Linked DNA regions of Homo sapiens. The protein of the gene in region 1 interacts with the protein of each later gene in a biochemical or structural test. Each region holds a gene or a part of one and is shown on either strand. Other genes may lie near its edges.

Region 1 (8,243 bases):
TAATCAGCAGAGACCAATGGAGAAGGTTTTTCCATCTTGCTACTGTATCAGTGAAGTGAGCCGATAGCTGAACCCTGAACCGAACATGCCTTTTTAAATTTCTACAAGCAATTATACTTGTAGATATGGGGAATGAATCAGAATGTATTCTTCATCCTTCCCATCAACATGGGGCATGACTTCACTGGAAGAAATTAACTCATTATACTCATTCTTTTATAATAAGGAAATTAGAGTAGCATTTACAAATTATGGCTAAGAAGTAGACAGCAAATTTGTTTGAAATCATGGAAGTTAGTGCTTAGTATTTGGACTATTTATACTGGAGCTATCAAATGTTACAAAGTAACATATGGAAAATAATATGTTAGACATTGTGAGAATTTATAGTTTAATTGGATTTTACTTATGTCAGATATTTTCCCCTCTATCATAAAAACCCTTAGTGCCAAGTATATAGTTTGCGTTCACCTTCTCTTGAATCTCCTGAAGGTGGACTTACAATCATGTCATAGGTCAAGTTAAAACTGAGTGTACACAATCTTGCTTTTTCTTCAGCCCTAAAATCGATCCTAGCAGCAATCACATTACTACATGACTGAAAAACCTAAAGTGTCTGAGTTATAATTTAGTGAATTTAGTCATTGAATTTGAACTTGCTCCTTCAGAAGAGTAGATCTTCTAGAACCCTCTCCACTTCTCACCTCACAAGGCAGAAGAAGGCATGTATGCTGAGAATCGGATGCTTTTGAAAAGGAGGAAATGCCATATCTTTTCAGCTGTTTCTTTCCATCTCGCCAACCCTATAAATAAGGAGCTCCCTTTGAGAGGAATGAGTACAGGTATAAAGACAATGGCCAAGGCAATAGCTCTAGGTTGGTTCTCCATACATCTGAAGATGCAGACATTCTTGTGTTGTGGGAAACTATTAGAGCCAGAGAAAATGGTTCGTCAACAACCTCATCAAATGTATTCTTTTAGTTTACAGTAAGAATTCCCTGTTCCTCTATGGCAGCCTTGTATTCTAACTTTCATACCTTCTCGTTGCTTCGTACTTTGTCTTTAGTCAATCCAAACCATCCCATGCACACTCCGCCTTCAAGTGTCACCTTTCCCTTGTAGTCATTCATGCTTATTCCAGCCATGGCTCATCTGTTTCCAAAAAAAAATGTGATTTTTTTCTAGTATGATATCAAATTGTTTTATTGCATTTAAGCTTTCCTCTGCAGCTACACTGTAGGCATGATTAGAGTGAGGTTTGCAAAGATTACCTCATTCCTCATCTCTGGCAGTGAATAGCACAGTACAGACTGGATATTAGGCACCTGATATACATTGGTCAATTAGTATTTCAGATCTCCAGAAAGCAAGCTCAGCATAGTATTTAAAGGCTAAGTCTTATTTAAGTCTTATTTCTTAAGTCATATCTTTGATTAAAAACACATTTGAGGGAAAAATTTAAGGCCTACTAAATTAACACAATATTTTTTCCTAACCCAAAACAGCATGTATACAAATGATTGAATACTGGTTCCTTATTGTTGAATAGCATACATAAAAGTTTAACTCTAGGTCTCTTTTTTTACAGAGTGTAAATTGTCCTGTGAATCACTTTTGACCATTAGCAGTTATAAACCACCATCATATCACTGCTTTTTTCAAATACAAGTTGATAATGGTGATAAATTGAACATCTTTTAGTTTTAATTTATAATTTTGTGGAACTTAAGAAGGCACTAGAAATTAGTCCACATTTCCTATTTTGTTCCCATCAACTGAACATCACTGGACATTGTTTAAATTAGCTGGAGGAATTTGGCCAGATGTTGACACATAATGGTTTCTGTGACCCAGGAACTACCTGCAACATTATCCCCTAAGTTCAAAACTTTTGTGATCTCTTCTGAGTTTTGGAAAATTCCATTGCCTTTAATTGCATTGCTTGTCATGTAAGAAACAAAATCTATGTACACAATAACTTTTTACATTGATGCTAAAATATAGTGTCATCTTTATGAAGACTTATTAAGAGATAATTAGTAATCCAAATATAAATTAAGCTTCAACTTTGTGAAGGGTTACCTTTGTGAATAAATCAACTACAGCGAGATGCCAGTAGACTGGAATATAGAAAGTAGATAATTCTCATTTGCGTATATGTCCATCTCTTTGACAAACTCATACTTGGATATAAGTTTTTGAAGGATGGGGACTTCTCTACCGTTTTATCCCACAGAGCCTAGTAACAATGGCTAACATCTATGGTTGTAGAGGTTGTATACTACAAAAGGTTGAAGTCAAAGTATTAAAAGGAATAAAATCTAGTCTATGTCTACTCTGAAGTTAAGCTCTAAAGGGTCTGTATCTACCCAAATGAGAGACTTCTAATAATCTCCCAGAATATATTGAGGAGAATTACATATGATTCTGCTACAGTAGTAACTGGCATATAATAGGAGCTCAGGCAACACTTACGATTGATAAATGAAGAAATTGCTTTTATGAATTGCTAAGCTCACCTGTGTGCAACAAATAGCACCTACATATGAAGAACCCCATGCATGATAGCTGTCGAGTTCATCTGGCATTAAGTACCTTAATTTCAGGCATGTTTTTATTGAAAAAATGTGACATAAAACCATATCTTAGAATTGAAGAAACAGTGTTTTTGTCTTGCATAAAAATTTTTATACATTGTTTCCTCATTTATTTCTCCTGTTTATCCGATGCCAAAGGCAAAACCAAAACAGAAAGTATGAGAAGTGATTTCGAGTGGACCAGGACCTTATGGCGTGGCAGAAAGACAGCCACAGGACTACTTAGGTATATTATAAAGATAGAAAAGACATGTTGAGAGTGACTCTATGAGGCCAGCCTATACCTAATTTCTTACTCTTGTACTGTAATTTTTTTCTTAAGAAATTAGATGTAGGCTGGCATTACAGAGCTGCTCCTTGTGTGTTTATTAATTGATTATTTGTATCTGGACTTTCTCCACTTTCCTGTTATTGCTGTTTCTCAATGATTTTGTTTTGCTTTGGCTTTCTGTGATTAAGACATCAGCTCCACTCGCAAATAGCTTTTCAACTCGAGTGCCAATCACAGTCTCTGTATCTGTTAACCTTATTGAGAAAGGAGAAAAAGGGTCTGTTGGGCTCTGGCTCAGCTCTCTGTGAATGTCCCACAGCTGGCTAACTAGACAGGCAGGGAAAGAACCAGGCACAGACTCAGTGGAATGCCGAGTGGCCACATTGTCTGTCAGCCGTGCCATGTACCAGGAAAGGGGCTTTATGCAGGGCAGGTAGTAAACCTTTGTACTAAGATCACTTTTTCCATCACTACTCTCTATCTTTTTTCATGTTAAATGTGATTGTTTTCATGTTTTATAAATCACCTCTTAGGAAATAGTGGTATTCTCTTAGGAGATTTTAGTCTAGGGTATGTGGATAGAAATAAGGTCTGTGAACTTGGATTGGGGGAAAACTTTATCTTTATTTGTATTCAATTAAAACCAAAAGTAAGCAGTTTTTTCAGTTAAAATGTGAGCAACAAACTCCAGCAATAGAGATACCCATGACTTTGTCACTAATAGAAATGACAGATACTTTTATAACGTGTTCCAGACATTGTACATACTTAAAAATACCAGTTATGCTCGTCATCACTACATTGAAATTATCCTAAAGACCTGATGCTAGATCTTGTTAATTAACATATTAGGAAATAAAACATGTATTACTACATCACAAATATTTAAAAAATGTGTTGCACATTGTATTTCAGTATAATTGTTTTCATTTAAAATCCTATGTATTTTGTTTTATGCATTTAAAAGCATTATTATGAGAATGGGTTTTTAAGCTTCAACAGATGCCAAAAAGATCCATGGCACTAAAAGGCTAAAAAAATCCCTGCTGCAGAAATACAGTAGCACCATACTGTAGAATTTTCTAAGGGCAGTTTCTTATTTGTGGATGGATTTTCAAATATCTGCCTTTAGCCACTACATGTATAAATTAAATAAATATAAATATATTTAGTTGAACAATATGTATGTTTATTAAATATTTATAATGAAAAATAAGACATGAATTATGCTTATGTACATATATATGTTCATAGTTACCCAACAATGAAGCTTCAGTATATATGGTATGGTTTTCATGATTCATTAATACATAGTTATAGGTTTAAAACCTTGCAGAATCATAGTAACCATACAGAAAGCCGTTTCATAAGCATTAAATCTTAAGACTACAAGACATTACTTGAAGGTCAATGCTCTCCTTTTCACAGGCTACTCAAAAAGAGATTGAGAAACAGAAGGTGCACCTGAAGAGTATCACAGAGGTAGGAGAGGCCTTGAAAACAGTTTTGGGCAAGAAGGAGACGTTGGTGGAAGATAAACTCAGTCTTCTGAATAGTAACTGGATAGCTGTCACCTCCCGAGCAGAAGAGTGGTTAAATCTTTTGTTGGTAAGAGAAAAGGCTAGAAGCTTTTACACCCTTCTCTGTCACGAGAAAAAGATACATAAGTGACCAGTAACAATTCTGTGTTTGAAAATTTCTCAATTCTACGTATATGCTGGCTCTTAATTCAATATCTATAACAATATTTTAATATATTTTTCTTTATATTTACGCAATATTCTATATGAAAATACCACTTAAAACTAATCTCAATGAAACTTTATTGTTGTCTTTTAAACATTTTAGAACATAGGAAAAATTCTTTAAGAATATTGTCTAACCAATAATGCCATGGTATGTCTCTGTACAATTAAGGAATACCAGAAACACATGGAAACTTTTGACCAGAATGTGGACCACATCACAAAGTGGATCATTCAGGCTGACACACTTTTGGATGAATCAGAGAAAAAGAAACCCCAGCAAAAAGAAGACGTGCTTAAGGTAGCAAATAAAATATGAAAAGTAATGTCCAAATTGTACACCAGTTACTTCAATCATCTTTGTCCTAAAAGATACTAAGGACGTCTTAATAAGAGTAAAACAATCCTTTCTTCCTTCCTTTATCTTTCCCTTTTTCCTTCCTTCCCCCTTTGAATGGAAATGAATGATTTTGAAGAGTTCTGTAATCTGACTTTCTGTTCAAATCCATCACTCAGTTAATTATACCCAATGTAAACTCCGTTCAGAAAGATATTCCAAGATTTATTTTGAAATCATATTGCAAATTTCTGCCTTTGTCAATGGTGGTACTACATTCTTGTGTCTAACACAAAGAACAATCTGACACTATCATTCATTTAGCCCATCTGAATGAACACCTGAAATCCAGTCAGCTGATTTTTTTGCCTATGCCATATCCAAATCTTGGTAATTAGTCTTAATGTTGGGCTTATGTAAAGCTGAGGTTTTCATTTTTAACTACATGTAAACTAGGCTTTGGGTTCTTTCTTTTAGTCTCAAAACTGACTGTTAGGATGCCCTGTCTTCTTTTTCAAGGGGAACTTAATCTTTTCTTTAAAAAATGATTCCGATAAAAGGGTATGAGAGGTGTAATACGCAAATATACCTTATAGACACTACATTGTTTCTATTTGATGATGTCTCTTTTCCCAATTAAATAGGTAGAGTTGAATTTTAACAGCTCTCTTTTCAATAAACATTTTTTATTTTGTTTTGCTGCAATGTTTGATAAATTTATTGATTAGTTGTTTACTATTTAAAGAAAACTCAAAAATTATGTTTCTTTCTATGCAATTTATTTTTATGCCTCTGATATTTTCCACAGATTACGATATACCTTTAATGAAAAACTATAAATTCATTCCAGGCTATCCCCAAAACACATTTATGCCATTGTCTGAAGCTTATTTTGATGTGGATCTGTATTGTGCTCTTCATTATCCCTTGATGTATAGTCAGAGATGTCATCTTATGGTGAATTTCCTTCAAGGCTTTTTGAATAATAGGGTCTGAGTTATTTAACTTCAACCTCTGTGACCCGGCAGGTCAGGAAGAACATTCCTCAGTACCTCTGTATGTGACAGAAAATTCGTATGTGTTAGAAAATCACTTTTTTTCTTATGACACTCAATGTAATAAAGAGGAACTTGAAAGTGCTAGGAAGGAATAGAAAAGTGTTCTTCAGCTACCTGACCTCCTGAGCACATACTTAGTTCATTCCACAACTATTAAATTCAGTAACGATATAATAAAATAAGACTAAATAGAATATATTATGATAGTTGCAACAACATAGTTGGGAAAACATCCCTGTCCTTCCTCGGACTAAATAAACATTTTAAATAGACATGCATCAAACTTAAGGACGGTGATCTATTTTTCTGAAATCACACGCATTTTCATTTTAGTCCTGTTTTATGGAAGTTGTGGTTTTATCTCCCTTTGTATTTTCTGCATGTGCTTGCTCTCATTTTCTTACTTTCTCTCTCTCTCTTTCTCACTCTTCTCGCTCACTTGCTCACTCGCTCTGTTTGGCTCTCTTTTTCTATCTTGACCTTCATTAATTACTAACTTCAAGTCCTATCTCTTGCTCATGGAATATAGCGTTTAAAGGCAGAACTGAATGACATACGCCCAAAGGTGGACTCTACACGTGACCAAGCAGCAAACTTGATGGCAAACCGCGGTGACCACTGCAGGAAATTAGTAGAGCCCCAAATCTCAGAGCTCAACCATCGATTTGCAGCCATTTCACACAGAATTAAGACTGGAAAGGTAGGAAGATCTACTCCAAGGTGGAAACTTGTGCTAAATGGTCTCTTGCGAAGGTTGCGCAGTACTCTGAAAGGGGCAAGTAGACCCCACAGCAAGGTTTTCAAAAGGAAAATGAATGCCAAAATGTATTTAAGGAAATTTTACCACTGATTATAATGGGAGATAAACGCCACTCCTCCCCGTCTCTGTCTCTCTCTGTCTCTCTCTGTCTCTTTTTCTCTCTCATCTTTTGCTGCCATAGATATTCTAGGACTGCATTCTATGCTGCAGTTTACATACGTACTTTCAGGGGTCACCTACAGAAAAAAATAACAAATAGCATGCTGAAGGCCAAAAAAATAAATAAAACCAAAAGCACACAAGTCATCCATCAACATAAAGCACTACCGATAAATTTTGCCAAAAGCAGTACTGATACAATATTGCTTGTATGTAATGTGGATCAAATATCCAAAATGAGGTCTTGTACATCTTCTGCACGGTCTAGGGTGTTTTTTTACCTCTTTACTGGTTGTGCAAGTGTGTTTGTTTAACTTGCTTTTGCTAGTTGTAGACACTGTGACAAAATTCATTAGGCTATAATGAAATGATCACGCCATGAAAACAAATCATTGCAAAGCTTACATATCCTAATTTTTGTAATTTTATATGCCTATTTATATTACTGTTTAAGAAGAACCAGGGAATATGGAACTTTTGCGTGATAGACTTTATATTTGTGTATGATTTGATGAAGAGAAAGTCTTATTTAATAAGTAGTTTGCAAAAATGTATAAATATAGTGTTATAGAATTTCAGCTCTTTGGGAAGATTTGAAATGCAAGTAATTACCTAGAAATTTATATACTGTAGTTTGATAAATTTCAATATATATGATATGCTTTCAAACATAAAAATGTATATAAAATCAATATATGTATTTAGGTATATAGATAATTGTTAGAAATAATCTGAAATGAAAAAAACATTGGAGTATTTATGAGAAAATATGATGCAGTATGTCAGGTAAGTATTGATTCCTGGAAAAATAGAACATTTTCAAAAAATATTTTGATAGATATAAGCAACCAGTAATAGCATGGTTTCACAATTGCTGCACTTTCTAAGGCATTACAGTGTCTCATCATGTTATATAATAGTACATATTTAAAGTAGTTTTCAAAATAAGTGAAATGTGACATGATAAATTCTAAATAGTTTAGCTTGTATGCATGAGACACAGTTACCCTTCAAAATTCACCTTCCCAAATTAAAAAGTTGTTAGTTTACCTTAATTCATTGCAAGTTATTTTTAATAGTTAACTACTTAGTTCTCTTGTACTCTCTCTCTCCATACATAGAGACCTTATATAGTTGACTTTTAAAAGGCTATATTCTCTACATATGGAGAGAGACAGCATGAGAGAACTTAGTAGTTAACTGTCACAAATATATATATTTGAGTCAGTCATTATTACCTGCAAAAAAATGTGACAGGCTCTTAAAATTGATTAAAGTTTTGAAAGAATGTATTGTTACTTACAAAGACAATTGTT
Region 2 (8,243 bases), on another chromosome or scaffold:
CTACTTAGGAGGCTGAGGCAGGAGAATTGCTTGAACAAGGGAGGCGGAGGTTGTAGTGAGCAGAGATCGTGCCACTGCACTCCAGCCTGGGTGACAGAGTGAGACTCCATCTAAACACACACACACACACACACACAACACAACACAACACAAAAATTTGGGAGAGACACAGCTCCAGGAAAGATCTTTACAAATCAGGACATCCTGGTAAGACTCCAGGAGTGCTGACCTCACAGCCTTTAAGGTCCAAAGCCTTCACCAAGGCATCTGCCTGCAGGCAGTGCCCAGCCCAGGGGAAGGTGACAGACCAGATCTCAGGTGAAAAAACCCTGACCCGGGGAACTGTGCTTGCTAGTCAGCCTCTGTGACTAATGTACTGTACCATGCTGGGTAAGCCTTTAGAGCTTCATTTCCTCTGTCTGCAAACAGAAACAGTAAGATCTGTTATTGTGGCTGTCAAATAAGATATTAATGGAAAATGGTTAATGTATCAACCATTTATTGGGTACCTATTGTGTGCAGGCGCTGTTCTAAGTACTTTCAGGCATTTTTCCTATCTGCTTCTCATAGTAACCCGGGAAGGCATTCCTGTCTCCATTTTACCATGAGGAAATGGAAGCTCAGAGAGGATCAGAGATTTGTCCAAGCCCACACAGCTAGCAAGTGGTAGAGCTAAGAGAGAGAGGGTGTGAGAATATTTTTTATTTTTTTAATTTTTTTTTTTGAGGCAGAGTCTTGGTCTGTTGCCCAGGCTAGAGGGCAGTGGTACGATCTTGGCTCACTGCAACCTCCACCTCCTCGGTTCAAGTGATTCCCCAGCCTCAGCTTCCCGAGTAGCAGGGACTACAGATGCGTGCCAACGTGCCCAGCTAATTATTATATTTTTAGTAGAGACAGGGTTTCACCATGTTGGCCAGGCTGGTCTCAAACTCCTGACCTCAGGTGATCTGCCCGCCTCAGCCTCCCAAAGTGCTGGGATTACAGACGTGCACCACCACACCCAGCTAATTTTTGTATTTTTTGTAGAGACAGGGTTTCACCACGTTGGCCGGGCTGGTCTTGAACTTCTGACCTCAGGTAATGCGCCCGCCTTGGCCTCCCAAAGTTCTGGCATTACAGGCGTGGGCCACCGCGCCTGGCCGGCCGGTGAATATTCTTAATTGCTGAGCTAGATTGCCTCTCATGTTGCTAGAGCACAACACTACAAAATGCAAACATATTGTTGATCATAAGGAATAATAAAATCAATTCCACACCAATGTTAGCCTACCCAGTGCCGACCTATGAAGAGCATGTTATATGTGAACCTTTGAGGCCTTTCCGCATAGTTGAATGACAATGACAGCTGCCCTCTATTGAGGGTCTGCTCTGTGCCGGGCACTCTACATTCATTATAGACAATTTCTACAGACAGATTGCAGTAGTTCTGGGAGGAATCCCACAGGCAAGAGAGGTGAAATCACTAGTCCAAAATCACAAAAATGAATGTAAGAGAACAATCTGGATATGAACCCCGATGCCAAAGTCTGAGCTTGGGAGGGTGGGCATCTGGGAGGGCTGCGGGCGCATGAACCAGACCCTCAGGCTCTTGCCTCACCTCTGCACTCCCTGCCATCCCTTTATCAGGGGATGGAGGCAGGTGGCAATGGCAGACCCCTGCCAGCATAGGGACCCTGGGGTAAACTATGCAAAAAGACAAGCCTGGAAAGGGGCATATTTAAGAACTTCAGAGGACAATAGAGCCCAGGGTGTGATCAGTCATGTAAGGCTGTTTGGAGGTGAGGCATTGACACTGATGGGAACAGTCACCATTTGACATTTGCAAGATGCCTGTTCTGTTTGGGGCTGGGAATCGAAGGTAGTGTTGGCTTTCAATGAGTGTATAGTCTAGCCGGAGACAGAAGACTCAAAAAATCGAATCTACACCAGGCATGGTGGTATGCACCAGTTGCAGCTACTGGGGAGACTGAGGTAGGAGGATTGCTCAGCCCAGGAGTTCGAGGCTGCAGTGTATCTGTGAATCGCTGCTGCACTCCAGCCTGGACAATATGGTGAGACCCTGTCTCAAAACAAACAAACAAACAAACAAACAAACAAAGGCTGGGTGCTGTGGATCACGCCTGTAATCCCAGCACTTTGGGAGGCTGAGGTGGGTGGATCACATGAGGCCAGGAGTTTGAGACCAGCCTGCCCAACATGGTGAAACCCCATCTCTACTAAAAAATACAAAAATTAGCTGGGCATGGTGGTGCACGTCTGTAATCTCAGCTACTCAGGAGGCTGAGGCATCAGAAACTCAGGAGGTGGAGTTTGCAGTGAGCTAAGATCACACCACTGCACTCCAGCCTGGGCAAAAAATCAAAACAGAACAACACAACAACAAAAAAATCCCCCCCAGGCCCCAATGAATCTAGGTTAGGAAATGACTGATGTCCCAAGAGAAGCACAAATAACAGGTTGGAGGTCTCAAGGAAGAAAGGTAGTTCTAAGCATATGTGTTAGGGGAGAAAGTAGAGGAAGAGACTTGGGCCTTTGAAAGAATCTCTGGACTAGAAGTCAGGCTTGTGCTGGGCTGTTGGACAGCCCTGGGCTACCCACTCACCAGTCACCATGACATGGGGCATACACACTGCTCCTTCTCTGAGCCTCAGGGGCAACCTCATGGCTCAGAGAGGGTCAGAGGTTTATCCAAGGCCATACAGCTAGAAAGTGGTGAAGCTAAGAGAAAGAGAGAGGGTATGACTGACTCTGTGGTGAATATTCTTTTTTAAAAAAATTGTTTTCTTATGGAGAATGTTAATAAATTCAAGATGGTGAATATTATTGATTCCTATGCTAGTTATTAATTTATTCTTTCTTTCTTTCTTTCTTTTTTTTTTTTTTTGAGACGGAGTTTTGCTCTTGTTGCCCAGGCTGGAGTGCAATGGTGCGATCTCGGCTCACCGCAACCTCTGCCTCCTGGTTTCAAGTGATTCTCCTGCCTCAGCCTCCCGAGTAGCTGGGATTACAGGTGCATGCCACCATGCCTGGTTAATTTTTTTGAGTTTTTAGTAGAGACGGGGTTTCATCATATTGGTCAAGCTGGTCTTGAACTCCTGACCTCAGGTGACTCTCCCACCTCGGCCTCCCAAAGTGCTGGGATTACAGGCGTGAGCCACTGCGCCCAGCCTTATTGATTTATTCTTTCTACCTTTGTTTAATTACCACCTCCTCTATGCCAGGCACTGTACAGTGTAGGCACAGGGGTGAAGAAAACAGGCAAGTTTCCCTACCTTGATGGAGGTTACAGTCTGGTAGATTAAATATAGAATTAAATGAGGCCATCAGTATAAATTTCTCAGCTCAGAGCCCAGCCTGCAGTAACCAAAGCTAAGGTGACTATAATTAGAGCAACTGAACTCTAGGCTCCTCTGCCCTTACTTGCTGTATGACCTTGGACGAGTCAATTCACTTTTCTGGAGCCCAGTTTCCTCTTCTCTAAAACATCTCCAGGTCTGACTCTGGAATTCTATGGCCCTTTCTGTGTCCTTGGCACTGGCAGAGCCTCAGGCTAACTCCCTCTTAGGATGTGGGGACAGATTTGGTGTCATTGGCTTCCCAAGTCCTTGGTCCCCAGAAGATGAAAGATTTTAGGGCAGCCAAACACTGAGGGCCCAGGGCATAAATCTGGAGATTCACAGACACACTGCAGCCTCGAATTCCTGGGCTGAGCAATCCTCCTGCCTCAGCCTCCCCAGTAGCTGCGACTGGTGCATTGGAGCTGGGGAGGGGGATGCAGGGACACAGGACCCCCATGACTTGTGACTGTTCTCCACTGCAGTCGGCCGCTGCAGAAGGGCAGTCACCCCATGTGCAAGGAGCACGAAGATGAGAAAATCAACATCTACTGTCTCACGTGTGAGGTGCCCACCTGCTCCATGTGCAAGGTGTTTGGGATCCACAAGGCCTGCGAGGTGGCCCCATTGCAGAGTGTCTTCCAGGGACAAAAGGTACTGTCTCCAGCCACTTTTACCCCCAGCCTGGGCCTGCTGGGCACGGCCTGATGATTCAGGAGGCAGATTTGATCCCTGTAGATCTGCTGATCTGGCCTTTCAGGAATAGTCTCTCTGGAGGGACTTCCCAGGCCACAGGGACAGCAGCCCTGGCCTTCCTAGGGGAGGCAGCTGAGCTCATGGTTATACTTAGAGCCACTCGAGAGCACCTGGGTGTGGCCACAGGGGAGCGGTCAGACGCCCCAGCCAGGCCACTGGGGTCCTCTCAGGCCACGGCTTCTCCATCCCCCAGACACCTCTTCCTGTGCCTCTCACCTCTTCTCCAAGACTTCACATTCCCCCACAGCAGGAGGCAGCTTAGAGCCTTCTCCCTGGGTCCCTGGGCCTGTGAGGGCCCACCACCCTGTCCGTGCAGTAAGCCGTAGCCACCCCCTTTCCATACTCTCTCTTCCCTACTCCCCACTCTTCTCTAGGTCTCTCTCTTCTAGACGTCTCCAACTCTATTTCTTTTTTTGTCCCTTCTTTCTTAGAAACAAGCCCCTCCTCTGTCAGTTCCTTGCTGTGTGTTTTGGGCAGCTCACTTGCCTGCTGTTGGCCTCACCTGTAAAATAAGGGATGCAGTATCTTTCTAATATCCTCTACTCTGGAGCTGAGCTATACCCGAAAGAGGGGCCAGATCCCTACTGGAGGCTCTTTCTAGCAGAGAGGGGAGGGAGGAAGCCATGTTGCTGCCATGCCCCAGTGGGTAGGCCCTGAGGCTATTTGTGTCTCTCCTCTCCTGACCCCCACACCCCCATCTAGACTGAACTGAATAACTGTATCTCCATGCTGGTGGCGGGGAATGACCGTGTGCAGACCATCATCACTCAGCTGGAGGATTCCCGTCGAGTGACCAAGGTGAGCGGACAGAATAGTCCTGCCTGGGGATTTGGAGCTTTCCAGGGCAGCCTGGTCTCTGGGGAAGGCTCACCCATAGGTTGTGGCTAAAGGTTGGGGCCCGGAGCCTGGGGCGGTCAAGCAGGGATGGCAGGGGAGGGACTAATCCATTCATCCAGTCTCTCAACAAATGCTTCTTAAGCACAGCTGTGTGTCCGGCCCCACCCAAGATGTGGGGGATGGAGGAGTGAACCAGACAGACGTGGTCCCTGAGCTCAGGGAGTGTCCCATCAATAATTCTCAGTATTTATTCAGCACAAATTGTTTTCAGAGCACAGTTCTTCAGTGTGCTGTAGACCAACACTTCCCAAACTTTGAAGTGCGTGAAAATTACGCTGGGATCATGTTGAAATTCAGGTTTTGATTCAGTTGGTTTGGAATGAGGCATAAGAGCTGCATTTCTAGCCAGTTCCCAGGATTTGCCCAAGCTGCTGGGTCCACAGACCACATGTTGAGTAGTGAGACTGTTGAGGGCAGAAGGGAACTTTTCTATCCCTGAAAAAAGCTTCCACGATTTTCCATGTTCACTTGGGGTAGGGATCTGGAGATGAGATGAGGGGAAGGGGTCATCATAATTGCTAGTGGATGAAGAGTTGGGCGAAGGGTAGGAAGGAGGGGAACATTGTGATCACCCACGAGAGGCTCCCGGTCTGATGAGATGCTATTGTCACACCCATTTTATAGAAAAGAACATAGAGAGAAGGGAGCTTCGGTTGAGGAGGGTGCTAGGAAAGGAGCTGTTTTTCCACCTCTCCTAGGACCAAATGATGCAGAGCTTCCCGAATCCAGTCTTGGTCCTGAAAGGGAGGGAAGAGTGTGAACTGGGACATATGGGAGGCCCAGGAAACGTTAATTTGTTGAAGGTCACACAGCTAAAAGGGAAACACAGCTAAAAGGCAACAGAGAGCTGGGCACAGTGGCTCATGCCTATAATCCCAGCACTTTGGGAGGTCAAGCTGGGTGGATCATGAGGTCAGGAGATCGAGACCATCCTGGCCAACATGGTGAAACCCCATCTCTACTAAAAATACAAAAAAATAGCCAGGCGTGGTAGCGTATCTATAATCCCAGCTACTCGGGAGGCTGAGGCAGGAGAATCGCTTGAACCTGGGAGGTGGAGGTTGCAGTGAGCCAAGATCGCACCACTGCACTCCAGCGGGGGCAACAGAGCGAGACTCCATCTCAAAAAAAAAAAAAAAAAAAGGGCAACAGAGAAAGACAGGGCAGATCCCACATTGGGTGACTGTTGCATTGGTCTAAGAGGTGATGCTCCAATGACCAGCTGAGGTTGGGGGACAGGGGGAGGGTGCAGGAACAAGGAAGAACATGTTGTGTCATGTGACCCTAGAGCCTCTATTTTGGAAGAAGGGGCTAGCTGTTTTTCAAGGCATCATCCTCCAAATATCACTGGCGTACTAAATAGCTGTGAGGCCAGATGAGTGTTTTCTTCTTGTTAAGTCTTTGTTTCTTCTTCTGTAGTGTGGGGATGTATGTAGTGAGATCTCTTCTAGCTTTAGATTCCTTGCTACTGTCCTAGGAAGGCAGTGTAGTGGGCAGGGAATAAAGACCCTACAGAACGTGACCACAAGACTTCCGTCCTCAGGAGAACAGTCACCAGGTAAAGGAAGAGCTGAGCCAGAAGTTTGACACGTTGTATGCCATCCTGGATGAGAAGAAAAGTGAGTTGCTGCAGCGGATCACGCAGGAGCAGGAGAAAAAGCTTAGCTTCATCGAGGCCCTCATCCAGCAGTACCAGGAGCAGCTGGACAAGTCCACAAAGCTGGTGGAAACTGCCATCCAGTCCCTGGACGAGCCTGGGGGAGCCACCTTCCTCTTGGTGAGCAGGACTAGAAGGGTCTGGGTGGGGTCAGTTCAACTCTACAGCTCTAAGGTTCAAGTTATGCTTCCCCACTGACCACCCATGGGCCCTTGGAAAAGCCATTTAAACCTCTGTGAGCCTCAGTTTCCTCATCTGTCAAATGGGCATGTAACACCCCCCACCTTCCTCTTACTGATTTTATGATGATAAGATAAGAGGATGTTTATGAAATGACTTTGTAAGCTGCAAAATACAGTGTCCCATCTACAGACTATTAATTGAGCCCCTACTGTAGGCCAGGCACTGAGGTGGAAGACAAGGAGATAAACCAGACACAGCCCTGCCCTCAAAGAGCTTGTTGGGGAGGACAGAAAAGGCTCAGTTATAAGACTTCATAGTTCAGTTCAATAAAAATGTTCTAGGCTTCTACTGTGGGCCAGGCTTTTTGCTAGACATTAGGTATGAAAAGGTGGTTAGGATTGGGGAGTTCAGGGTTTAGGAGTTTTGGGATTGATACCCCTAGAATCCAAGCTTCCTGTCAAGACAGTGGGTCCTAGGGTGATGACCAAGACCTGTACAGACCACAGACAGAGGGAAAAGTTCCAGATTCTGCTCAGTTTGGGGTGGGGAGCAGGTCACAACTGGGCTAGGGAATGGCACCAAATATCTACCTACAACACCTAGTTCACTAGTTTTGCTGATTTCCTGCGGTTACCTCTTCTGCGGTCCTAATCCTTTGTTCTCTCTCCCCCTGCAGACTGCCAAGCAACTCATCAAAAGGTCAGTGTCTTCCTAGAGGCTATGATCCAAGCACCTAGTTCCCACCAGGACCTCTGTCCAGGAAGCCTCATCCTGGGCATTAGGCCTGCTGGGAGGGTCTCACTCTAGGCTGGCTTCCCTGACCCTTTGCATCCCTGACTTTTTGGACCACTCCTTGTGCTTGAGGTTGGAGAGGAAATACTCCATCCCTCCAGGGGAGCCTCTGGGTAGAAGGCCTGGGCGTGGCAAAGCATGTGCCCTCTCTTCCCTGCACTGAGCCCCAGAGACCTCATCCTGCCTCTCTTTCTGTCTCCCCTGCAGCATTGTGGAAGCTTCCAAGGGCTGCCAGCTGGGGAAGACAGAGCAGGGCTTTGAGAACATGGACTTCTTTACTTTGGATTTAGAGCACATAGCAGACGCCCTGAGAGCCATTGACTTTGGGACAGGTAAAGGAGGTGGTGATGCCACTTGTCTATTTGCCTGCCTGACCCCTGGAAACCAGCATCCCTCCAACTGAGCCCGATGGGGAGGCAGATACACTAATAAAGATCCCCAAATATCAATCAAACTCATATAGCCAACTTCTGGCCGGCTGTGGTGGCTCATGCCTGTAATCCCAGCACTTTGGGAGGCCAAGGTGGGCGGATCACTTGAGGTCAGGAGTTTGAGACCAGCCTGACCAACGTGGTGAAACCTCATCTCTACTAAAAATACAAAAATTAGCCAGGCGTGATGGC
Region 3 (8,243 bases), on another chromosome or scaffold:
GGAGAATCGTTTGAACCCAGGAGGCGGAGGTTGCAGTGAGCCGAGATCATGCCACCACACTCCAGCCTGGGCGACAGAGCGAGACTCCATCTAAAATAAAATAAAATAAAAGCACCTACCGCAGAGCCCTGTGTTTATGTACCTTCCTCTCTTGATACCTGAAGAACTGTAGTTTTTGATTTTTTTTTTTTTTCGCTCTGTCACTCGGGCTGGAGGGCTGGAGGGCTGGAGTGCAGTGGTGCAATCTCAGCTCACTGCAACTTCTGCCTCCCAAGTTCAAGCAATTCTCCGGCCTCAGCCTCCTGAGTAGCTGGGATTACAAGCACACACTGCCATGCCTGGCTAATTTCTTTTGTATTTTAGTAGAGATGGGGTTTCACCATGTTGCCCAGGCTGATCTCGAACTCCTGAGCTCAGGCAATCCACCTGCCTCGGCCTCCCAAAGTACTAGGATTACAGGTGTGAGCCACTGCGCCCAGCCAAAACTGTAGTTTTTTACCCCTTTAACTTCAGTACTTACTATTGTGCTGCTATTGTGTGTCTTTTTCTATTTCTGGTAACAACCCTGTTAAACAAAATCAACATACTGAATTTTTTTTTTTTTTTTTTTTTTTTTTTTTTTGAGACAAAGTATTGCTCTGTCTGCCAGGCTGGAGTACAGTGGCCCGATCTTGATCTCTGCTCACTACAACCTCTGCCTCCCAGGTTCAAGGAATTCTCCTGCCTCAGCCTCCCGAGTAGCTGGGACTACAGGCGTCTGCCACCACTCCCGGCTAATTTTTGTATTTTTAGTAGAGACAGGGTTTCACCATATTGGCCAGGCTGGTGTCGAACTCCTGACCTTGTGATCCACCCGCCTTGGCCTCCCAAAGTGCTGGGATTACAGGCGTGAGCCACCGCGCCCAGCCAACATACTGAATTTTTTACTGACTTATCTATAAATTGGAGTGCATAGTGGACACATAGCCATCCAAAAGCATTCTAAGTGAACCAAGACATAATGAGCCACCTGCAACAGCTCCATTAATAAGTCCCAGATGCTATCCCGTCAGAAAAGGGCCACTCCTCTTACTAAATGGGGAATTTATACTGAAAAAAAAAAAAAAGCCACTTCTCATACACACACACATAGCTGTTAAATCAGAATGAAAGGCTTATTTCCCCTATCTCCCTTTGGTTCATTACTCCTAAAAGGGTAAGGGGTGTCAGGCACTTAATCATCATTGCATCACTGTGGTGTGATGTACTCAATGTTTAGAGAAAAACTGTTTAATTGGTTCGATTTGGCACAGCATTTACATGACCAGGTCACAGTCTCATTCAGAAGAATCTGGTATTAATTATACATTTTAAACTATGGCCGGGTGTAGTGGCTCATGCCTGTAATCCCAGCATTTTAGGAGGCCGAGGCGGGTGGATCACCTGAGGTCGGGAGTTCGAGACCAGCCTGACCAACATGGAGAAACCCCATCTCTACTAAAAATACAAAAAATTAGCCAGGCGTGGTGGCGCAGGCCTTAATCCCAGCTACTTGGGAGGCTGAGGCAGGAGAATTGCTTGAACCCAGGAGGCAGAGGTTGTGGTGAGCTAAGATCACGCCATTACACTCCAGCCTGGGTGACAAGAGTGAAACTCCGTCTCAAAAAAAAAATTTTTTTTAAACTAAAACAAGCTCAATATCTAGACCTAAATACATTAAGTTTGACACACACACACAGAATCACACACAGTCACATTTGCTTTCCATTCTTTCCTTCTCCAGGGGAAACAATCCAAAACAGAACATTTAAGAAATCTCAGGCCGGTCGCGGTGGCTCATGCCTGTAATCCCAGTACTTTGGGAGGCCGAGGCGGGTGGATTACCTGAGGTCAGGAGTTTGAGACCAGCCTGGCCAACATGGTGAAACCCTGTCTCTACTAAAAATACAAAAAATCAGCCAGGCCTGGTGGCACATGCCTGTAATCCCAGCTACTCGGGAGGCTGAGGCAGGAGAATTGCTTGAGCCCAGGAGACGGAGGTTGCAGTGAGCCGAGATCATGCCACTGCAGTGCAGCCTGGCCGACAGAGAGACTCTGTCTCAAAAAAAAAAAAAAGAAAAAAGAAATCTCAGGGGCCAAGCACTTTGGGAGCCCAAGGTGGGCAGATCACGTGAGGTCAGGAGTTTGAGACCAGCCTGGCCAACATAGTGAAATCCCTGTCTCTACTAAAACTACAAGAATTACCTGAGTGTGGTGGTAAACACCTGTAATCCCAGCTACTCGGGAGGCTGAGGCATAAGAATCATTTGGGAGGTGGAGGTTGCAGGGAGCCGAGGTTGCGCCATTGCCCTCCAGCCTGCATGACAGAGTGAGACTCTTATCTCAAAAAAAAAAAAAAATCTCAGGCCAGGTGCCGTGCCTCACACCTGTAATCCCAGCACTTTGGGAGACCGAGGCAAGTGGGTTGCCTGAGCTCAGGAGTTCAAGACCAGCCTGGGCAAGATGGCAAAACCCCGTCTCTACTAAAAAATACAAAAAATTAGCTGGGTGTGGTGGTGCCCGCCTGTAATCCCAGCTACTCAGGAGGCTAAGGCATGAGAATTGCTTGAACCCGGGAGGCAGAGGTTGCAGTCAGCTGAGATTGCGCCAGTGCACTCCAGTCTAGGTGACACAGCAAGATTCTATCTCAAAAAAAAAAAAAAAAAAAAAAAAAAAAGGAGGCCGGGCACGGTGGCTCATGCCTATAATCCCAGCACTTTGGGAGGCCAAGGCGGGCAGATCACAAGGTCAGGAGTTTGAGACCAGCCTGACCAACATGGTGAAACCCTGTCTCTACTAAAAATACATAAATTGGCCTAGTGTGGTGGCACGCTCCTGTAATCCCAGCTACTCAGGAGGTTGAGGCGGGAGAATTGCTTCAACCTGGGAGGCAGAGGTTGCAGTGAGCCAAGATCACGCCACTGCACCAGCCTGGGAGACAGAGCGAGACTCTGTCTCCAAAAAAAAAAAGAAGCCATGTGCAATGGCTCACGCCTATAATCCCCACACTTTGGGAGGCCGAGGTGGATGGATCCCTTGCAGTCAGGAGTTCAAGACCAACCTGGCCAACGTGGTGAAACCCTGTCTCTACTAAAAATGCAAAAAAATTAGCCGGGCGTGGTGGTGTACATCTGTAATCCCAGCTACTCAGCAGGCTGAGGCAGAAGAATTGCTTGAGCCCAGGAGGGTGAGGTTGCAATGAACCGAGATCACGCCACTGCACCCCAGCCTGGGTGACAGAAGGAGATTCCATCTCAAAACAAACAAAAAAAAGAATCTCTAAATCTCTCTTTTTAAAATTGTTTAGACATTGCTCTGTCACCCAGGCTAGAGTGCAGTGGCATGATCATAGCTCACTGCAGCCTTGAACTCCTGGACGCAAGTGATCCTCCCACCCCAGCCTCCTGAGTAGCTGGGACTATAGGCACACACCACCATGCCCAGATACATTTTTTATTTTTATAGAAATGAGATCTTGCCATGTTACCCAGGCTGTTCTCTAGCGCCTGGCCTCAAGTGATCCTCCTGCCTCCTGCCTTAGCCTCCCAGAGTGCTGGGATTGTAAGCATGACCCACCACACCTGGGGCATTTGCCAGTCTTGATGACCAAAATTGTTTGTATCCTGTCAATTCAGAGGTGTCCTTTGAATTGTATCTTTGATAGCGTTGACTGTGACTTTTGCTGAGTATAGCCTTTAACTTTGATGAACATAATCTTTATCTTCATCCCAAATGCCAACCAAACCATGTCACGGCTCCTGAAAGGCCTCTCTGCCTTTGCTCCTTTGGTTGGTCCTTCTTGCCCAGTTCAGTCCTTCTGCCTCTTCCTCCCTGCCTGTCCAGTTTTACCAATTCTTTTTTTTTTTTTTTTTTTTTTTTTTGAGACAGTGTCTCGCTCTTGTCACCCAGGCTGGAGTGCAGTGGCGTGATTTCATCTCACTGCAACCTCTGCCTCCCAGGTGCAAGCAGTTATCCTGCCTCAGCCTCCCAAGTAGCTGGGATTACAGGCATGTGCCACCATGGCTGGCTAATTTTTGTATTTTTAGTAGAGACGGGGTTTCGCCATGTTGGCCAGGCTAGTCTCTAACTCCTGACCTCAAGTGATCCGCCCACCTCGACCTCCCAAAGTGCTGGGATTACAGGTGTGAGCCACCGTACCCGGCCAGTATTACCAATTCTTTAGGGCCTATCTGAAGGCCCATCTCCTCCAGGAAACCTTTTCTTGACTTTGGCCTCATTCACTTTGGTGTTTGCTCATGTTCTGTACATTCTGCCTTACACAATTGGGGATTTCCTGTCTATGCCAATGAGTTTACAAAGTCCTTGAGAGCAGGGACTGTGCCTCTTACTTCTCTAGTGCCTTGCACAGCCTACACACACTTGCCAGTATGAGTGTTCAGTGGGTACTCGAGGAATTAAATCGAACAGATGTCAAGGAGTGTTATGGTCATTTCTGCCTCATCTCAGTGACCAAAACAAAACACACTTCTTTTTTTTTTTTTTTTGAGACAGTCTTGCTCTGTCGCCCAGGGTGGAGTGCAGTGGTGCAATCTTGGCTCACTGCAACGTCCGCCTCCCGGGTGCAAGCAATTCTCCTGCCTCAGCCTCCTGAGTAGCTGGGATTACAGGCACCCGCCACCACACCCAGCTAATTTTTATATTTTTAGTAGAGACGGGGTTTCACCATGTTGGTCAGGCTGGTCTCAAACCCCTGACTTTGCGATCCGCCTGCCTCGGCCTCCCAAAGTGCTGGGATTACAGGCGTGAGCCACCACGCCTAGCACAAAACACACTTTAGAAGTTTCCATACAGGTTAGGTATCACACATTCTCAAGAAAATATTTTTCCTATTTTGAAGTCAGAAGATTCCCTTTTCACTTGATAACTGACATAGCAACTTTACAACTAATGTTTTTTGCTTTTCTTCAACAGGCTGCATGTTAAATGGCCAAGAGGTGAGGCTTACTATTCACTATGAAAATGGGTTCACCATCTCAAGGGAAAATGGAGGCTCCAGCAGCATATTGTACCGCTACCCCTTTGAAAGGCTGAAGATGTCTGCTGATGATGGCATCCGAAATCTATACTTGGATTTTGGTGGTCCCGAGGGAGAACTGGTAAGAGTGTTTCTGAAACACATGTTTATCTAATAGATGTTCTCTTTCCTTCTCATTACTTCTTACCCCTTATATACAAAGTCATGGACTGACATTCCATTTAGAACCATGAAATTTTAAATTAAAAAAAATTTTTTTAAAGATGGGGTCTCTGTCACCCAGGCTGGAGTGTAGTGGTGCAATCATAGCTTCCTGCAGCCTATACCTTCTGGGCTCAAGTGATCCTCCCACCTCAGCCTCCTGAGTAACTGGGACTGGACTATAGGTGTGTGCCACCATGCCTGGCCAATTTTTTATATTCTTTATAGAGATGAGGTCTCGCTTTGCTGCCCAGGATGGTCTTGAACTCCTGGCTTCAAGTGATCTTCCCATCTTGGCCTCCCAAGGTGTTGAGATTACAGGTGTGAGCCACTGTATCTGCTCTTCTTCAGTTTTCAAGATGGCATTGGGTGTTGGTTTTTGTTGCCGTCATTTTTCTTTTTTTTTTCTTTTTTGAGACGGAGTCTCGCTTTGTCGCCCAGGCTGGAGTGCAGTGGCACCATCTCAGCTCACTGCAACCTCTGCCTCCCTGGTTCAAGCAATTCTGCTGCCTCAGCCTCCCGAGTAGCTGAGATTACATGCACGTGCCACCATGCCTGGCTAATTTTTCGTATTTTTAGTAGAGATGGGGTTTCACCGTGTTAGCCAGGATGGTCCCAATCTCCTGACCTCATGATCTGCCCGCCTCAGCCTCCCAAAGTGCTGGGATTATGGGCGTGAGCCACCGTGCCTGGCCTTAGATTTTAAATCCTCTACTATTTAGTTCTTCCTACCAGGCATGGTGAAACCCAGTACACCACCAGTTGTCTCCTAATTGGGGATGTGAAACCTCACACCAGTATTATGACATGGAATAACCTTACTCCATAGTGCACTTTTGCCTGTGGCTTTAAGTTCCTAAGAGTTTCCATAGCTCTGGCACATTCTTTACCTACCTTAAATTTATTTTGCATCTTCGTTTATTAAGTTGTCTGTATATGGTAGTGAGGTAGTGATGCTTAGTGTCCTTTCTCCACAGACCATGGACCTGCACTCTTGTCCGAAGCCGATTGTATTTGTGTTGCACACGTTTTTATCGGCCAAAGTCACTCGTATGGGACTGCTTGTATGAGCAACAAAAAATCAGAAAAGAGCCTTGACTGTCACAAGAAATATTTCCACCTCAAAAAAAAAAAAGCACAAAAAGAAACTCTTTGCTCTCCTTCAGCACAGTGCCTTCCCAAGGACCTGCAAATAACTGCTGAACCATAACCGTGTTTAAAGAAGAGCCTACCTTTCACAGTCTACCTTGGCCAGATATTCTAGCACTCTAAAAGGCTCCAAAATGAAGCTGTTGATTTATTCTCATTTCAAAATATGGTTTATGAGTAATTAGGTTTATTTCTACTGCTAAAAAGAATGGCTCATTGTTTTCTTTTTTTTTCATTGTTTTCATTTTTAGACATAATCAAATACCCAAGCATTGTTTTCTTTTTCTTCTCCCTGTAGGATTTGTGTTGTGCTTAGCCTTGATCTCTTGTTCAGAACAATTGTCCCTTCCCAGGTGCTAGCTTGCAGCAGCCTGTTGCTTCCTGAGCATTCCAGATAGGTCGTATGTCTTGGAATTTACTGTCCTCACTAGCTCCTTCCACCATAGGAAGTCCTTGAATTGTATCACCAAAGGGTTGTTCCATTTGCCCTGGATCTCCCTCTATCTCAGCCTGGCCATCACTTCCCACCTTATCCCAAGCTTTGCCACTGTCTCTAGGACTTAGAACTTGTAAATTTGATTTGCCTTGCCTTCTACTTCCTTTCTAGTGGTGACTGAGTTGAAAAGCAAGTTGGAAGCCACTGCTTTTAAAGAAAAGTTTTGCTTGGTTTAGGTTTTTCCAATTTTATTTTTGTTAGGAGCCAGGGGATAAGATTTATTTTAAATGAAAATCCTCTTCCTAGGTTAAGCCATTTTTTTTATTGCTTACCAAATGTGCCTTTGGTTAGGGTTAGTGGAGCTTTATTAGTCACTATTTGAATAACTGGAAATCACTGCCATTTCCAGGAGATCACCTATCCTAGTTTTGAGGAATAGTCATTGAGGTGGGTTTCCTTAATGGCATCTCTTCTAGTAGGCAGATCTGTTTGAACAAGATAAATCCTAAAGAGCCAGCCTGCTTGAGGAGTAGACTTGGTGGGTGAAGCCAGCAATTCCGCACAAACGTCATGTTGAATTGTTTTGGGCTGCCCAAAAACAACAGGATGCAGCATCCTGGCTGTGGCCTGGCCCTTTGTGGCAGCAGTGGCATGGACAAGCAACTGCTAATTCGAGACTTACTATTGGCTTCACAGCACACCCTACAGTGAGCAGGGTGATGAGACCGTGGAACAGCTACCTGCTTTTGGTTAAGATTGCCAGATATCATTAGGACACAGTAGCAGCAAGAATGCTGATTTTGTAGTGTTAGAAAATGAACTCAGCTTGTTTTTCCTAATTTTGAAGGTGGTATATATCTGCAAACATTTAAAATGGTATAATATCATATAAAATGTCAAAATTAGCACAGTCCCTGGATCTCAAAGAATAGGTAATATTGACTTGGATGTTCTTTATGCTCTCTGAAGAAAGGTCTAGGGAAAGTTCTTGTTTGCTTGATTGATCAAGAGTGCCACGGAAGAATGTGAGCGCTGTGGAGGGTGGAGGAGGGTGTCACTTCAGATGGGGCAGGCACAGGGGGAGAAAAGAAGAGAAAAACACACCTGTGTGCAAAATGAGCTATTTGGTTTCAGTGCGGCCTGACCGATGGGGAGGACCCATGAGCAGAGAGAGTTCTAGGTCAACATTGTAACTCCATTGTCCTCCTTCACCCATAAGTCAGTCCTCCTTCCTCATTACAGTGAAACCAACAATATGCAGAGGTTGGGGAGAGATGCCTGTTCTTCCCCCAGCTTCATATAATTGTCAAAGTTCCAAAAATGAATTATCTGAACTGCTTAAAACTGGAAATTAAAATCTAGACAAGAATATGTCTTTCAAGAGCTTTTTATGTTTTGAAAGTTCATAAACCTAAGATTGGCTCCATCTGAGATAAATTTTCT

What was found. Proteins that work in one complex are often made in the same cells at the same time.
Region 2: of the proteins of DMD (region 1) and TRIM63, one has a biochemical effect on the other in vitro, tested with the Homo sapiens proteins (one study listed by BioGRID).
Region 3: the proteins of DMD (region 1) and SNTB2 interact in a test that uses a peptide from one of them, tested with the Homo sapiens proteins (one study listed by BioGRID).

What each region holds. Positions count from the first base shown.
Region 1 is NC_000023.11:32,361,253-32,369,495, reverse strand, and holds part of DMD (dystrophin), read left to right. Parts: intron 1-4,296; coding exon 4,297-4,476; intron 4,477-4,785; coding exon 4,786-4,914; intron 4,915-6,537; coding exon 6,538-6,708; intron 6,709-8,243. UniProt on the Homo sapiens protein: Anchors the extracellular matrix to the cytoskeleton via F-actin. Ligand for dystroglycan.
Region 2 is NC_000001.11:26,056,912-26,065,154, reverse strand, and holds part of TRIM63 (E3 ubiquitin-protein ligase TRIM63), read left to right. Parts: intron 1-3,820; coding exon 3,821-3,989; intron 3,990-4,793; coding exon 4,794-4,889; intron 4,890-6,531; coding exon 6,532-6,765; intron 6,766-7,504; coding exon 7,505-7,527; intron 7,528-7,827; coding exon 7,828-7,952; intron 7,953-8,243. UniProt on the Homo sapiens protein: E3 ubiquitin ligase. Mediates the ubiquitination and subsequent proteasomal degradation of CKM, GMEB1 and HIBADH.
Region 3 is NC_000016.10:69,294,640-69,302,882, forward strand, and holds part of SNTB2 (beta-2-syntrophin), read left to right. Parts: intron 1-4,950; coding exon 4,951-5,135; intron 5,136-6,192; coding exon 6,193-6,285; 3' UTR 6,286-8,243. UniProt on the Homo sapiens protein: Adapter protein that binds to and probably organizes the subcellular localization of a variety of membrane proteins. May link various receptors to the actin cytoskeleton and the dystrophin glycoprotein complex.